Homo sapiens: one gene and its partner. The protein of the gene in region 1 binds, or shares a complex with, the protein of each later gene. Each region holds a gene or a part of one and is shown on either strand. Other genes may lie near its edges. The genes, in order: HBB and HP. A codon is read from its position in the direction of its gene.

Evidence for each region.
Region 2: the proteins of HBB (region 1) and HP are in contact, whole or in part, in a crystal structure (PDB 6TB2), measured with the Homo sapiens proteins. Residues at the interface, in NP_000509.1 of Homo sapiens: Tyr36 (codon at 1,809), Pro37 (codon at 1,812), Trp38 (codon at 1,815), Arg41 (codon at 1,824), Glu44 (codon at 1,833), His98 (codon at 1,995), Val99 (codon at 1,998), Asp100 (codon at 2,001), Pro101 (codon at 2,004), Glu102 (codon at 2,007), Arg105 (codon at 2,016), Leu106 (codon at 2,869), Asn109 (codon at 2,878), Tyr146 (codon at 2,989); in NP_005134.1 of Homo sapiens: Gly164, Gly165, His166, Leu167, Ala169, Asn287, Ala288, Asn289, Lys291, Asp294, His295, Lys297, Tyr346, Gln347, Glu348.

The regions. Positions count from the first base shown.
Region 1 is NC_000011.10:5,224,995-5,228,594, reverse strand, and holds HBB (hemoglobin subunit beta), read left to right. Parts: upstream 1-1,523; 5' UTR 1,524-1,573; coding exon 1,574-1,665; intron 1,666-1,795; coding exon 1,796-2,018; intron 2,019-2,868; coding exon 2,869-2,997; 3' UTR 2,998-3,131; downstream 3,132-3,600. UniProt on the Homo sapiens protein: Involved in oxygen transport from the lung to the various peripheral tissues. LVV-hemorphin-7 potentiates the activity of bradykinin, causing a decrease in blood pressure.
Region 2 is NC_000016.10:72,052,681-72,056,812, forward strand, and holds the start of HP (haptoglobin isoform 1 preproprotein), read left to right. Parts: upstream 1-1,824; 5' UTR 1,825-1,972; coding exon 1,973-1,977; intron 1,978-3,480; coding exon 3,481-3,563; intron 3,564-3,849; coding exon 3,850-3,951; intron 3,952-4,132. UniProt on the Homo sapiens protein: As a result of hemolysis, hemoglobin is found to accumulate in the kidney and is secreted in the urine. Haptoglobin captures, and combines with free plasma hemoglobin to allow hepatic recycling of heme iron and to prevent kidney damage.

The DNA of each region.
Region 1 (3,600 bases):
AAGAGAATAAAGCAATGGAAATAAGAAATTTGTAAATTTCCTTCTGATAACTAGAAATAGAGGATCCAGTTTCTTTTGGTTAACCTAAATTTTATTTCATTTTATTGTTTTATTTTATTTTATTTTATTTTATTTTGTGTAATCGTAGTTTCAGAGTGTTAGAGCTGAAAGGAAGAAGTAGGAGAAACATGCAAAGTAAAAGTATAACACTTTCCTTACTAAACCGACATGGGTTTCCAGGTAGGGGCAGGATTCAGGATGACTGACAGGGCCCTTAGGGAACACTGAGACCCTACGCTGACCTCATAAATGCTTGCTACCTTTGCTGTTTTAATTACATCTTTTAATAGCAGGAAGCAGAACTCTGCACTTCAAAAGTTTTTCCTCACCTGAGGAGTTAATTTAGTACAAGGGGAAAAAGTACAGGGGGATGGGAGAAAGGCGATCACGTTGGGAAGCTATAGAGAAAGAAGAGTAAATTTTAGTAAAGGAGGTTTAAACAAACAAAATATAAAGAGAAATAGGAACTTGAATCAAGGAAATGATTTTAAAACGCAGTATTCTTAGTGGACTAGAGGAAAAAAATAATCTGAGCCAAGTAGAAGACCTTTTCCCCTCCTACCCCTACTTTCTAAGTCACAGAGGCTTTTTGTTCCCCCAGACACTCTTGCAGATTAGTCCAGGCAGAAACAGTTAGATGTCCCCAGTTAACCTCCTATTTGACACCACTGATTACCCCATTGATAGTCACACTTTGGGTTGTAAGTGACTTTTTATTTATTTGTATTTTTGACTGCATTAAGAGGTCTCTAGTTTTTTATCTCTTGTTTCCCAAAACCTAATAAGTAACTAATGCACAGAGCACATTGATTTGTATTTATTCTATTTTTAGACATAATTTATTAGCATGCATGAGCAAATTAAGAAAAACAACAACAAATGAATGCATATATATGTATATGTATGTGTGTATATATACACACATATATATATATATTTTTTCTTTTCTTACCAGAAGGTTTTAATCCAAATAAGGAGAAGATATGCTTAGAACCGAGGTAGAGTTTTCATCCATTCTGTCCTGTAAGTATTTTGCATATTCTGGAGACGCAGGAAGAGATCCATCTACATATCCCAAAGCTGAATTATGGTAGACAAAACTCTTCCACTTTTAGTGCATCAACTTCTTATTTGTGTAATAAGAAAATTGGGAAAACGATCTTCAATATGCTTACCAAGCTGTGATTCCAAATATTACGTAAATACACTTGCAAAGGAGGATGTTTTTAGTAGCAATTTGTACTGATGGTATGGGGCCAAGAGATATATCTTAGAGGGAGGGCTGAGGGTTTGAAGTCCAACTCCTAAGCCAGTGCCAGAAGAGCCAAGGACAGGTACGGCTGTCATCACTTAGACCTCACCCTGTGGAGCCACACCCTAGGGTTGGCCAATCTACTCCCAGGAGCAGGGAGGGCAGGAGCCAGGGCTGGGCATAAAAGTCAGGGCAGAGCCATCTATTGCTTACATTTGCTTCTGACACAACTGTGTTCACTAGCAACCTCAAACAGACACCATGGTGCATCTGACTCCTGAGGAGAAGTCTGCCGTTACTGCCCTGTGGGGCAAGGTGAACGTGGATGAAGTTGGTGGTGAGGCCCTGGGCAGGTTGGTATCAAGGTTACAAGACAGGTTTAAGGAGACCAATAGAAACTGGGCATGTGGAGACAGAGAAGACTCTTGGGTTTCTGATAGGCACTGACTCTCTCTGCCTATTGGTCTATTTTCCCACCCTTAGGCTGCTGGTGGTCTACCCTTGGACCCAGAGGTTCTTTGAGTCCTTTGGGGATCTGTCCACTCCTGATGCTGTTATGGGCAACCCTAAGGTGAAGGCTCATGGCAAGAAAGTGCTCGGTGCCTTTAGTGATGGCCTGGCTCACCTGGACAACCTCAAGGGCACCTTTGCCACACTGAGTGAGCTGCACTGTGACAAGCTGCACGTGGATCCTGAGAACTTCAGGGTGAGTCTATGGGACGCTTGATGTTTTCTTTCCCCTTCTTTTCTATGGTTAAGTTCATGTCATAGGAAGGGGATAAGTAACAGGGTACAGTTTAGAATGGGAAACAGACGAATGATTGCATCAGTGTGGAAGTCTCAGGATCGTTTTAGTTTCTTTTATTTGCTGTTCATAACAATTGTTTTCTTTTGTTTAATTCTTGCTTTCTTTTTTTTTCTTCTCCGCAATTTTTACTATTATACTTAATGCCTTAACATTGTGTATAACAAAAGGAAATATCTCTGAGATACATTAAGTAACTTAAAAAAAAACTTTACACAGTCTGCCTAGTACATTACTATTTGGAATATATGTGTGCTTATTTGCATATTCATAATCTCCCTACTTTATTTTCTTTTATTTTTAATTGATACATAATCATTATACATATTTATGGGTTAAAGTGTAATGTTTTAATATGTGTACACATATTGACCAAATCAGGGTAATTTTGCATTTGTAATTTTAAAAAATGCTTTCTTCTTTTAATATACTTTTTTGTTTATCTTATTTCTAATACTTTCCCTAATCTCTTTCTTTCAGGGCAATAATGATACAATGTATCATGCCTCTTTGCACCATTCTAAAGAATAACAGTGATAATTTCTGGGTTAAGGCAATAGCAATATCTCTGCATATAAATATTTCTGCATATAAATTGTAACTGATGTAAGAGGTTTCATATTGCTAATAGCAGCTACAATCCAGCTACCATTCTGCTTTTATTTTATGGTTGGGATAAGGCTGGATTATTCTGAGTCCAAGCTAGGCCCTTTTGCTAATCATGTTCATACCTCTTATCTTCCTCCCACAGCTCCTGGGCAACGTGCTGGTCTGTGTGCTGGCCCATCACTTTGGCAAAGAATTCACCCCACCAGTGCAGGCTGCCTATCAGAAAGTGGTGGCTGGTGTGGCTAATGCCCTGGCCCACAAGTATCACTAAGCTCGCTTTCTTGCTGTCCAATTTCTATTAAAGGTTCCTTTGTTCCCTAAGTCCAACTACTAAACTGGGGGATATTATGAAGGGCCTTGAGCATCTGGATTCTGCCTAATAAAAAACATTTATTTTCATTGCAATGATGTATTTAAATTATTTCTGAATATTTTACTAAAAAGGGAATGTGGGAGGTCAGTGCATTTAAAACATAAAGAAATGAAGAGCTAGTTCAAACCTTGGGAAAATACACTATATCTTAAACTCCATGAAAGAAGGTGAGGCTGCAAACAGCTAATGCACATTGGCAACAGCCCCTGATGCATATGCCTTATTCATCCCTCAGAAAAGGATTCAAGTAGAGGCTTGATTTGGAGGTTAAAGTTTTGCTATGCTGTATTTTACATTACTTATTGTTTTAGCTGTCCTCATGAATGTCTTTTCACTACCCATTTGCTTATCCTGCATCTCTCAGCCTTGACTCCACTCAGTTCTCTTGCTTAGAGATACCACCTTTCCCCTGAAGTGTTCCTTCCATGTTTTACGGCGAGATGGTTTCTCCTCGCCTGGCCACTCAGCCTTAGTTGTCTCTGTTGTCTTATAGAGGTCTAC
Region 2 (4,132 bases), on another chromosome or scaffold:
GACTTTTTTTTTTTTTTTTTTGACGACGTCTCGCTCTGTTGCCCAGGCTGGAGTGCAGTGGTGCGATCTCAGCTCACTGCAAACTCTGCCTCCCAGGTTCAAGCAATTCTCCTGTCTCAGCCTCCCAAGTAGTAGCTGGGACTGCAGATGCATGCCACCACGCCTGACTAATTTTTGCATTTTTAGAAAATATGGGGTTTCACCATATTCGTATTGGTTAGACTGGTCTCAAACTTCCGGCCTCAGGTGATCCACCCACCTCGGCCTCCCAAGGTGCTGGGATTACAGGTGTGAGTCACTCCCCAGCCTTGAGTATCTTTTATGTGCTTTTTGGCACTTTATGTATATTTTTTGGAGAAATGTCTATTTAAATCCTTTGCCCATGCTTTAATTGTTTGTCTTTTTGTTGTTGTAGTTAGGATATGCTCTGGATAACAACCCTTTATCAGATATAGAATTTGCAAATATTTTCTCCCATTCTGTAGACTGTCTTCACTTTTTTTTTTGAGACAGAGTCTTGTTCTGTCACCCAGGCTGGAGTGCAGTGGTGCGATCTAGGCTCACTGCAACCTCTGCCTCCCAGGTTCAAGCAATTCTCCTGCCTCAGCCTCCGAGTAGCTGGGATTAAAGCATGCGCCACCATGCCTGGCTAATTTTTGTATTTTTAGTAGAGATGGAATTTCACCACATTGGTCAGGCTGGTCTCAAACTCCTGACCTCATGATCCGCCCACCTCAGCCTCCCGAAGTGCTGGGATTACAGGCGTGAGCCACCACGCCTGGCCTGTCTTCATTTTATTAATACTGTCTTTTGATACACAAATGTTCATTCCGATGAAGCCCAATTTATCTAATTTTTCTTTGATTGCTGGTGATTTTGGTGTCATTATCTAAGAATCCATTGCCAAGTTTTACTTGGTTTTGATCTCTAGAAGACTGCCATCATACTGAAGGTAATCTTCTGAAACTTGCGGTTTTCTTTCAAAAATTATGTTTATAAGATGATCCATGTTCTTGCAGAGTTTATTCATTTTATGCTGTATAATATTCCATTATATCCACATACAATGCAGTATTGACCCTTCCTCCTGTTGATGGGCATTTGTCTTGTTTCTAGTTACTTTGCTATTATATCAGTGTCACCATGATTATCCAAAAGTAATTCTTTTGTACACTCTAATTTAAGAACAACTAACCCTTTTTAATGAATAAATCAACCTTGTATTGAGTTGCTACTAAGTTTCAGTTGACTAGTACCTGGGATACACACAGGTGCAGACATTTGACTGAGACATATTGATTTTTCTCATCTGCCTATTTAGGCTAATCACCAGACTATAAAACCATGAGAACCACTGCCATTGAGTATAGTCTGTGTCAGTCTACACTATAGCTTTAACTAGTTGTGTGATTTCTTGCAAAGAGCAATCAGAGAAGACACAATAAACACATTTACTGATTTCAGGCTGGAGAGCTTTTAAGCAATAGGGAGATGGCCACACACAAGGTGGAGAAAATTACTGTGAAAAGGAAGTACTTTCTTTAGAGCCCCACCTAAGCTAGGCTGCAGAAATGTCTACAATGGGTTTGAAAAAACTCAAAATGAGCCTTTCTGCAGTGTGAAAATCCTCCAAGATAAAGAGACAGATTGATGGTTCCTGCCGCCGCCCTGTCCTGCCCAGTTGCTGATTTCAGGAAATACTTTGGCAGGTTTGTGGGTCATAGAGTTGCCAGGTTTCTTGGGATTTGTAATAGAACATCACAAGAAAATCAAGTGTGAAGCAAGAGCTCAACTCTTAACAGGGGTATTGTTTGTGGTTTTGTTACTGGAAAAGATAGTGACCTTACCAGGGCCAAAGTTTGTAGACACAGGAATTACGAAATGGAGAAGGGGGAGAAGTGAGCTAGTGGCAGCATAAAAAGACCAGCAGATGCCCCACAGCACTGCTCTTCCAGAGGCAAGACCAACCAAGATGAGGTGGGTCCACAGCTTTCCCTCCTGCCTTTCCTCTGGTTCTTTATTTCAGTCTTTTTTGCATACATCGGTAGAGATGCAGAAATAGAACAAAGAAACGGGCAAATGGGCTAAATTATAGTGAACCAAAGGGCTTAGTGTGTTAAATCTTCTCCTTTTCTGCATCCATAGAAGACAGTGCTGCTGTCTTTCCCAGGAGATAAGATTTACTCTCAGGAGTGTCTTTTTCCTTCAGGTTACATTTTTGACTTTATAGGGTATGTCATCAGCTCCCGTGGTAGGCTTCCTGGCATCCTGAGTATATTTATTAGCAGATATTTTCCTCTTTAAAAATGTACAATAAGGAAGACTAATAGTAACACATTTGAATGACACAATTAATTGACTAGTACCTGGGATACACACTAATACCTGGGATACATCTAATTAAGGCACTTAGATCTTATAAAAATAAACACTTTTTGAAATGTTGAAATAATAAGACTAGAAACTTTTTTTTTTTTTGAGATGGAGTCTCGCTTTGTCACCAGGCTGCAGTGCAGTGGCATGATCTCGGCTCACTGCAACCTCCACCTCCCAGGTTCAAGTGATTCTCCTGCCTCAGCCTCCCAGGTAGCTGGGACTACAGGCGTGCGCCACTATGCCCACCTAATTTTTGTATTTTTAGTAGAGACGGGCTTTCACCATGTTGGCCAGGATGACCTCGATCTCTTGACCTCGTGATCTGCCTGCCTTGGCCTCCCAAAGTGCTGGGATTACAGGCATGAGCCACCGTGTCTGGCCTAGAAACTATTTTAATAGAAGCAAGTAGTGCCCGAATGGTTGGCATTTGTTAGTGAGATGGTGAACTGGCAGACGGCACCTGTGGGTCAATGCCCATGGCCACCGTCCTGCTTTTGGACACCAGTTCTCTTCCAGGTAACCTTCTGGCATTTTGGGGTTTCAGATACCATTTCCTAAAGGTGAATTATTATAAAATACTAGAAATACCCACGTGTTTAAAATTATATATTTAAGGAACCTTTTATTACGGAAAATATCAAGAAGTAGAGGAATAGCACAGTAAGCCCAAAGTTCCCATCTCTGAGTTATCTACATTTTATTACCACTATCTTTGCGGTGTCTGAGGGAGGTTTCTCTTTCCTGGAGGGCTCCTGTATTATTGCCAATGTACTTTCCTGAATGCAGCCAGAAACTGAGCCCACCCCTCCACCTATGTGCCTTTCTATCCCTCTCTGAAGCTTCTGCAGAATTCCCAGCAGGACAGGGCTTGCTGGAAGCTTGGTATGCTCAGAAGCTGCTAAAGTGTGTATGGGCAGGTGTGGGGGCAATTTCTTGGTCCTAGCACTTCCATATATCGACTTTCTTTTCTGGCTGCTAAGTGGGAGGAGTGTGTGTGTATGCATGTGTGTGTGTGTGTGTGTACATGCATGTGTGTGTGGATGCATGCATGTGCTGTGAAGCAGGGAGACTAGCTTTCCACTCCTCCTTGTCTTCTCTCTGCAGTGCCCTGGGAGCTGTCATTGCCCTCCTGCTCTGGGGACAGCTTTTTGCAGTGGACTCAGGCAATGATGTCACGGATATCGCAGGTCAGTCTTTGGTTGGGTAGGAGTGTGCATCCCACTCTGACCCTCTCGGGTCTGCACTCTCTCTGAGAACACCCAATTCCCCCTTCTTATCTCGACCTCTGGGCTTTCAGGACCATAAAGAACATTGGGGTTCCTGCCAGAAATGAGGGGAGCTTGCCTTTCCATTGGCTTCTATTCGGGGTGGAAGGAGATTGATGTGCAGAGCAGCTCCCGCTCATCTGACTTTTCACGGTTCACTGGGAACAATTTCCAAATAGCAAACTCTCTGGCTTCTCTCTCTTTGCAGATGACGGCTGCCCGAAGCCCCCCGAGATTGCACATGGCTATGTGGAGCACTCGGTTCGCTACCAGTGTAAGAACTACTACAAACTGCGCACAGAAGGAGATGGTAAGATGTGGACAACTGTCTCCATGCCCTACATACAACCCCCTTCTCTGACATTTCCATGATGGGTGGTGCTGAGGTGATTCGCCAGAAAGTTCGTTGCTCTCCTTGGAGCCAGGAGATTTAGATTCTAATAAGCGTTTTGTCGCCAGTAGCCATGGCCCTTTGGGCAGACTAACTTTTG